3 separate regions of the Homo sapiens genome follow, and all the other regions are linked to region 3. The links come from fine-mapping of genetic effects on gene expression. A gene starts in region 3. Each other region holds a variant in brackets. All regions are shown on one strand. Distances are between the middles of the regions. Region 1 overlaps C15orf39 (chromosome 15 open reading frame 39). Region 2 overlaps NRG4 (neuregulin 4). Region 3 holds the start of SNUPN (snurportin 1).

Evidence for each region. PIP is the estimated chance that this variant, and not a neighbour inherited with it, causes the effect.
Region 1: its variant is fine-mapped to the expression of SNUPN in pancreas (GTEx, PIP above 0.99).
Region 2: its variant is fine-mapped to the expression of SNUPN in whole blood (INTERVAL, PIP 0.91).

Annotation. Positions count from the first base shown.
Region 1 is chr15:75,206,376-75,209,133 of GRCh38, reverse strand. C15orf39 (chromosome 15 open reading frame 39) reads right to left here. Exons shown (of 3, transcript NM_015492.5): 2 at 310-2,758. Among named protein-coding and RNA genes, the nearest start is that of C15orf39, 5.9 kb to the right of the region's middle. RefSeq lists an enhancer at 1,810-1,859. The variant A/C (reference allele first, on the strand shown) is at 1,480.
Region 2 is chr15:75,995,080-75,997,837 of GRCh38, reverse strand. All of the region lies in intron 3 of NRG4 (neuregulin 4), which reads left to right. Among named protein-coding and RNA genes, the nearest start is that of NRG4, 16 kb to the left of the region's middle. The variant G/A (reference allele first, on the strand shown) is at 1,023.
Region 3 is chr15:75,624,324-75,627,081 of GRCh38, reverse strand. SNUPN (snurportin 1) reads left to right here and starts at 1,357. Exons shown (of 9, transcript NM_005701.4): 1 at 1,357-1,416. RefSeq lists an enhancer at 989-1,178 and a silencer at 1,829-1,878.

The sequences.
Region 1 (2,758 bases), 420 kb after region 3:
CCAAAGATGGAGAAGGCACAGGCAGAGGAGGAGGGAATCCAAGAAGGTGCAGCACCAGGGGAGGCCGAGGAGTTTCCATGGGGACAGAGCAGCTGGCATGTTCAGAAGCCTACAAAAGAGGCTATGAAGGTGCTCACTGATTGTCTGGAGGGTCAAGGGGTGGGGGTACCTAGAGCTCATCCTAAAGCCCCCTACCCGGGCAGGAGTCCTTGGAATCACTCAGCCCCAGCTGTGACGCACTCACACAGCACACACACCTGTCACTTGCTCACACAGCTCCGGTGGCCACTGGGGCTGCCCCATGCTCACCCAGCTGGCGGCGTACACAGTCGCGCCACTGCAGGCCGAGAAGGTCGGGGTAAATGTCCGGCAGCTGGCGCAGCGCCAGTAACTTCAGCATGCGTGAGGTGCAGCCTGGCAGGGCGAGCTCCCGCAGTGCCCGCTCCTCCGACAGCGTGGTGGGCCGCAGCTCCACACGATGCTCCTGCAGCACATGGTCCACAGAAGCGGGTGGCAGCCGAGGGAAGAGCCGCTCCTTCACCAGGTGAATGGGCACGAAGATGGCGCCAGCTCGCACCACATGGGGGAAGGGGCACCGGTGGGTGCGATCGAAGCGCTGCAGCTGAGACAGCAGCTTGGCCAGCAGCCCCTGCACACCCTGGCAGTCCTGCCACGCAGCCTGGCCCCAGGGCCCAGCCGTCTCTAGCCACTCGCGAAGCTTCTCTGGAGGAGAGTGGGCGACGGAGCCAGAAATAGCATCACACAGGGACGCATGTAGTCCTGTAAAATGCTGCTCCAGGGAGTCCCCTGGGGCTGAAGTAGATGCTGGAGCAGGGCCTGCAACTGGAGCTGGAGCTGGAGCTGGATCCCGGGCTGAAGCTGGAGCCTGAGCTCGAGCCGGAGCAGGGGATGGAGCTGGAGCAGGGGCAGGGGAGGCCACAGCTACGGCTGGAGGGCTGGGCAGTGCCAGGCTGAAGCAGGTCACAGACAAGGGCTGTTGAGCGAGAATCCGCAGTCCAATGGGCCCAGATGTGGGGGTGGGTGCAGGCTGTGTGGGAGCAGGAGCTGAGGTGGGCGTGGACGGGACCACGGCTGCAGGCAAAGGTGCCGGACGGAGGATCTTGAACTTTCGGAACATGAAGGCCACAGAGCTGTGGAAGTTGGTCCTTGGCATGGCATCTGTGGTCACTGGCACCCCAGGCAAGCCTGGTGCTTCTGTGTCTATCTTTTTCAGGCCTGGCAGATCTGACACCATGTTGCCCACATCTGGCACATCCATGGCTGCAGTAGGCTTGGCATGCTCCACAGAACGGGAAGCCTTGACAGGGGAGGCCTCTGCTGTGGGCTTCCTCACACTCAAATCCAGGGCTACCTCCTCCTTAAGTGAGCCCCTTAGGGGTTTACTCCCTGAGGGGCCCTCCTGGGCAGGCAGGGTCCCCCTGCAGCCTTTGTCCTGACCTTCACTGGTGGCTGGGGCTG[A/C]GTCAGGCTCAGCTGTGGCAGAGTCAGGCTCAGTTGTGGCCTCGGGTGCCGGCACATCCAGATAGTCACGGTAGGGGGCCAGGCTGAAGACATTGTCAATGACAGGCATTGGTGGAGAGCTGGGTGGCCTTGCGCCCTCCTTCTGTGGAAGAGACTGGCACTCCCGGGCACAGGGGGGCAGTGCTGGGGGGGTACAGGGAACTGGACTGTCTCGGATGACGATGGGCGGCCCAGAGTGCTCACTGAGCCGGGGCTGGAGCTTCTCTTTCCTGCAGCTGGGCAGCCAGGTCTTCTCTTCGGCTTCCTGTGCAGGCCTCACAGGCTCTGAGCAGGGCTGGCTCGCTGGCAAAGGCTGGCATGCCCTCTGGAAGGCACCAGGCTGTGGCACAGCCCGCACATTGTTCTGGGAAGGTGGTGTCCCTCCAAGCCCAGGGGATGCTCCATAGAGAGAGAGGTCATCCCGGGCATAAGGAAAACTCAGTGTCTGGGGGGCAAAGTCCAATGGGCACCGTGGAGTGAGAGGCGGCTCCAGCTTGAGGCCTGGAGAGGGTGCTGGGAGAGGGGCAGAGGGGTAGGGGTAAGCGTCCAGCCCCAGTGGGGGAATGTAAGGTGCCTGGGCTGCCTGCTGCCTCAGGTAGGGGCTGCCCAGCCCACCAGCCTGGTACCCGGTCCCCTTGTGGCCCCCCAGAGGCTGCAGTGGGAGTGCTGGGCTGTAGCTGCCCTGCTTCTCTGGGTGGCGACAGGCTGGAGGGCAAGGCAGGGCCTGTGGAGGGTGGGGTGGTGGGTGGTGGGGTGGTGGGTAGTGGGTGGGCCCGGTGTCCTGACAGGGTGGCCCCAGGGGCTGGGCCAGCTGGGTCCAAGGACTTGAGGGCCCCTCAGACATTGCTTGCTTGGAGTTCCTAGGGTAAGGACCTGTGTACCTGGAGGCCAGGAAGCCCGTGCTGTGGATGGTCTGATATTTCTCCAGGAAGGGCTGGCATGGGGAGAAGCTCCCTGAGGAGTCTTTACTGGACCCCTCAGCTGGCACCCCCCGCAAGAAGGTGCCATCCAGAGTCTGGCCCTTGCTAGGAGCTGGGGCCAGAGAGCAGGGTGGGTCAGCTGAGGGCAACAGGGGCCCAGTCGCCAGAGTCCAGTCAACATCCAGTGGCCTCTTCACTGCTCCTTCCCCCAGACAAGTTGAGAGCCCATAGCACAGAGGGTTGCGGTAGACAGGTTTGGGTGCTGCCAGTGGTGGGCCTGGGTAGGAGTGAGCCTGGGGACTGAAGGGCAGGAGCTCAAC
Region 2 (2,758 bases), 370 kb before region 3:
GTCTGGCCCTGAAAAACCAACTCCTGAAAAACTCCAGCTCTCATTTTTCCTGCCTTAGTGACCTTGGAGGCCATGTTCTCCAGGTGTCAGGGCCAAGAGATGGAGAAGGGCTGCCTGACTGGCATTGGGCATTAGACAGTAGTGTGAGCAAGGATTAAACTTTCATTGTATGAAGTCACCAGTATTTGTAAGTTTGCAATTAAAGGCAGCTAGTATTAACTTTGTTGACTATTATATGCTCACACTGTACCCAGACGTATTTCTATCTTATATCTCTCTCTACTGTACTTAGTGTTTATGTGTCTGTTGTTCTCTAATAGAATCTAAGCCCCTTGGGACTGAATAATTCTCTTGTCTTTGAATTTTCTACATCTAGTATATATCATAGAATTTAATAAACTACTCAAAAATGTTTCTCGAGTGAATTTTTGAGAAAAACCAAGATGGAAAAGGATTTGGAAATTTCAATCACTAAAAAATAGGGGTATTTAATACCAAGCAAAGAAGGGTAAGAAGATGATGAGATGAAATTCTATGAAGAATATCTTTGCAATATATATCTTTGCAATACAGATTTTTAAATATTAATGGAGTTGAATTAGTATCAAAAAATAAAAATTTTCTCAGAGAAAATTAGATGAATTATCTCGTAAAAAGTTATTTGTAATTTTGTACAGAAATGTTACTGAAATGATTTTTGCCCTTATTTAGTTTACATATTTTTTTCTCTCATTAAATGTATAACATCAGCTCTCTGGAAATCTCAAGCTTTTCTTAGTCTACTAAGTATTATAGTGGGAAAAGTCTCAAATGGGGAGAAGATCATGAAAAAAAGCCTTAAAAATACTATTAAAATAATTTTTCTCTCATTGACACCTACCTCATCCTTTTTACAAAGTTTCTCAACCAATATGTGTTAGAAGAGAATTCCAAATATAGAGCTAATTCTGGCCATCAAGTAGTGATGTGTAATATGGATATTTATAGATCTTTATGATATAATTCCTATAATACATTTCACC[G/A]AAAACATTCAAGGTTTGATCTAGAATCAAATTTATTTTCATATTCTGACACAGCCATTTCATCTGATTCCTACCAAGACTATAAACAAATGTAGTAATAATAAATATAATGTTGGGATCTAGTACTATCATTATGTAGACGAATGATCTAAGCAAGTCACTAGTTGCTATAAAAATAAATGGTTACAAATAGAAATTTGGCACTTTTTCCAATTTTGTGACCAAATCTCTTCTTTGCTACTCTAAGAAATTTTATGTCAGGAACTATTATCTAGTTTCCTGACCTTTCAAAAGTGTGTTCTTTTGTATCTCTTTATTTCACTGTCTTCTATAGCTAAACACACATGCTCTATTAAAAAGCAAGGCTCATTTGTTTAATAATGTGAATAACTGAGCTTCAAACTCTTGTAGTTAAAAGATTCATACTACTCAATGAAGTTGGTATATCTAGGGAATAAATAGCCCCAATGAGTACTGTGTGACCATGGTATTATCACAATCTGAGGTCTCCCCTCAGTGTAGATTGTTAAGAGTTAAATGAAGTACATTGTGAGGGATCTCATCTCTCACAGCAGATACACATTGATTAGGCTTACAGAGCTAGTGTCTAAAGTAAGCATTCTTATTTATTTATTGAGACGTGGCCTCGTTATGTTGCCCAGGCTGGATACTTCAATTTGTTAATGTATGATGATATATAACTGACACAGGCTTGAGTTGATGTGAGCCAGGCATTCTTTTTCTCTGTAGACTGACATGTATGGGAAGCCAAATTTGTAATCAGAATATTTTAATGGATATAGAGAAAACAAGAAAACAACAAGAATTATATAATATGAAAGTCTACCTGTAATTAGTCTGATGCATTTATTTCCACAAGAGAGATAATCTGACTTAGAACTGTAATGCATGAAGTCTTCTGGCTACAATACCCTCTCTACTTAACAGTGCTTAGATAGGCACTGCCGATGTTTGCCTCTGTGCCTCTCCTTTCTGTGAGTGTCCCTTGCCAACCAACTCCTCAGACTGACAGCTCTTTCTTTAGATATGTTAATGCATATTCAGCTAGTCTCTATTATTTAAAGGAACTTTGCTTTATTCTACTCTGATCCATTGACTTTATAATTCAATTTGCATTATATAATCTTATTTCCTTCAGCTCTAAGTATTAGACATCACATCAGTTTCCCACTTGTACTTAATACACAACCTAAATATAGTTGAGGTGTGATATAGTTTGGATATGTATCCTCTCTCCAAATCTCATGTTGAAGTATGATCCCTAGTGTTTGGGGCGGGGGGGCCTAGTGGGAGGTGTTTGGATCATGAGGGCAGACCCTTTATGAATGGCTTGGTGCCCTCCTCATGGTAATGAGTTCTTGCTCTATTAGCTAATGTGAGATCTGATTGTTTAAAAGAGTCTGTGGTCTTCCCCTTTTCTCTCTTGCTCCCTCTCTCACCAGGTGATACACTGGCTCCCCCTCACCTTCTGCCATGATTGTACACTTCCTGAGTGCTCACCAGAAGCAGATGCTGGCACCATGCTTCCTGTATAGCCTCCAGAAGCATGAGCCAAGATAAACTGCTTTTCTTTCTTTCTTTCTTTCTTTTTTTTTTTGAGACAGGGTCTCACTCTGGAGTGAGACGACTCCCATACTGGAGTGCAGTGGTGCGGTCATGGCTTACTGCAGCCTCTGCCTCCCTGGTTCAAGCAATCCTCCCACCTCAGCCTCGGG
Region 3 (2,758 bases):
GCAGGCGCCTGTAGTCCCAGCTACTCAGTAGGCTGAGGCAGGAGAATGGCGTGAACCCGGGAGGCGGAGCTTGCAGTGAGCGGAGATTGCGCCACTGCACTCCAGAGCCTGGGCGACAGAGCGAGACTCCATCTCAAAAAAATAAAAAAAAATCTCACGTCCAGAAAAATTGGCCTTCCAGGGCCCCAGAACCCTTTTTACCAGTCTAGTAATAGCCTTTCATCAGCCTAATTTCCTATTCTTTTTAGTCTGAATGTATGGTGTAATGTGCATAAAATACACAAGTCCAAATTTTAGCATTCCGTGGACGCAAAATGTGCCAAAGGTGGATACTTTGCTTCTGTCATACATCGGTAGTCAACTTCCCTATACATCAAACTTTCAGCAAATTCAAACATTTTCCTTGAAAGCTGTGTTACTTTGGCCAAATTACTTAACCTCTCTGAGCTTCAGTGTGTCTACTTCCTCATGTCATGATTAAGAGTTAATATCTACTGGCTTAAAAAAGAAAAAAAAGGAAAAAAATTAAATGAGATGATGGGTGTGAAGCAGGGATTGGCTGAATGTAAGCATTCAATAAATATTCAGTTTTAAAATTGTAATCTCAGCCTTCCCGCCCTGCAGAGGCTACACCCTGGCAGGACTTAATCTCCTAAATCTCTGCCGCTTACCCTAGTCTTTTGCACCAATTTAATCATTCCTTCACGCAGGGTCTACTGAGCGCCATCCCTTGTGCTGGACTCTGGCTACTTAAATAGGAATCAAGCCAGGTCCCTACCATTGCTCAGCCCGCAGCCGAGTGGGAAAGAAGCTCGCAAAAGCAGCAAACAGGCAGTAATCGAGGTATGTATCTGCTTTTGTTAAGGGCAAGTGGGGGAGCGAAGGTCTGTGTCTGAAACTTGGGTGTGAGGGGTTAGTTGGAGTAATCCAGGCAATTGGCACTGCCCGTTTAAGAGCACGGGCCCAAGAGGGGAAGGGGACTCCAGGTGAAGCCCTAAGGCCCGGGAAGATCTGCGGGAGGCGGCAGGGCCCAGGGCGTTGAATGCCCGGCCACAAGATCAGCCTCCTCCCATTGGCGAAAGGAGCCCCGAAGAGCTTGTGTTCAGGAGGGAGGCCTCGGCCTGGTCAAGTCATCTAGCAGGAAGAGTCCCGGACAGTGCAAAGCAAATGCAAGAAGACCCCCTCCCTAGCCGATGGGAAATGCCCCAGCCGTTGAAGGCGGAAATAACGGCCTGTAGGCAACGGAACTCCCAGCGTTCGCAAAGGAGGGAGGAGCCGGAAACTCAGGGCGCGAGGCCTGTGGGCCCAGCGGTGAGGCAGCAGCTGGGGGCGGGGGGAGGGCGGACCTAGCTTCCCAGGGCAGGTGATTCGTCGGCCCCGGTGGCGGCGGCGCGTGCGACGGTCACCTCGGTTTGGGTGAGTCCCTGGGTTCGAGCCCGGGCCCCGCCAGCTGCCGAGTTGCCTCTCGGTGCCGGACTGTGACTCCCTCTGGCCGGCCCTGCACTCTGGCCTCCTGGGACGTCATCTGGAGGGATAGAGCCAGGCCTGGGACTCCTTTTGGGAGAGTTTCCGTTCTTCTATTCCGTGCTGTCCGGCCAGGACCCCTCAGGGACTTCTGTGGGGCAGGGGCGAATCATGCATGGCCTAGATGACCCCATGCCTAGAAAAAGGCAGTGCGGGGCGGTGGCGGCGCGCACGGCCGAGTGAAGCAGATAGCGTCCCCGGGGCTGGAGCCCGGTAGCAGGGGTAGGGAAACGCGGAGGCTGCCAGGATGCGGACCCAGGGGACGCGAGGCGGGGGCGCCGGATGGGGAGACGCGAAGGAGGGGGAAGGGGATGGGGGAGGGGGCTAGACAGGGAGGGAGGGTGGAGCGTGGGCGGGGCCTGGGGCGGGTCGGACTTTAGGGAGTTGGAGCGGGGGTTACTGGTGCTAAGACCACCTGGGGCTAAGGTCCGAACACTTGGAGGCAGCACCATCCAAGGAATGGGTTGAAACAGCAGGAGCCCGGCGGGGCGCAGTGGCTCACGCCTGTAATCCCAGCACTTTGGGAGGCCGAGGTGGGCGGATCACCTGAGGTCAGGAGTTTGAGACCAGCCTGACCAACATGGTGAAACCCCATCTGTACTAAAAATACAAAAAAAATTAGCCGGGCGTTGTGGCGCGTGCCTGTAATCCCAGCTACTCGGGAGGCTGAGGCAGGAGAATCGCTTGAATCCGGGAGATGGAGGTTGCAGTGAGCCGAGATCATGCCACTGCACTCCAGCCTGGGCAACAAGAGCGAAACTCTGTCTCAAAAAAAAAACAACAACAACAAAGAAAAAACAAAACGAAACAGCAGGAACCCGCCAAGAACAGCCTTGAAGGAAGGTAAAGGAACCGCCCCAGTATCCAGGACATCAGTTTTTCTTTTTTTTTTCTTTTTGAGACGAAGTCCAGGCTGGAGTGCAGTGGCACGATCTCGACTCACTGCAAGCTCCGCCTTACGGGTTCAAGCCATTCTCCTGCCTCAGCCTCCCGAGCATCTGGGACTACAGGCGCCCGTCACCATGCCTGGCTAATTTTTTTGTATTTTTTTTTTTTTTTTTAGTAGAGACGGGGTTTCACTGTGTTAGCCAGGATGGTCTCGATCTCCTAACCTCAGGTGATCTGCCCGCTTCAACCTCCCAAAGTGCTGGGATTACAGGCGTGAGCCACCGCGCCAGGCCCAGGACATCAGTTTCAAAGGTTGTGTGGTTCTTGGCAGAGCGGGAGCCCACAC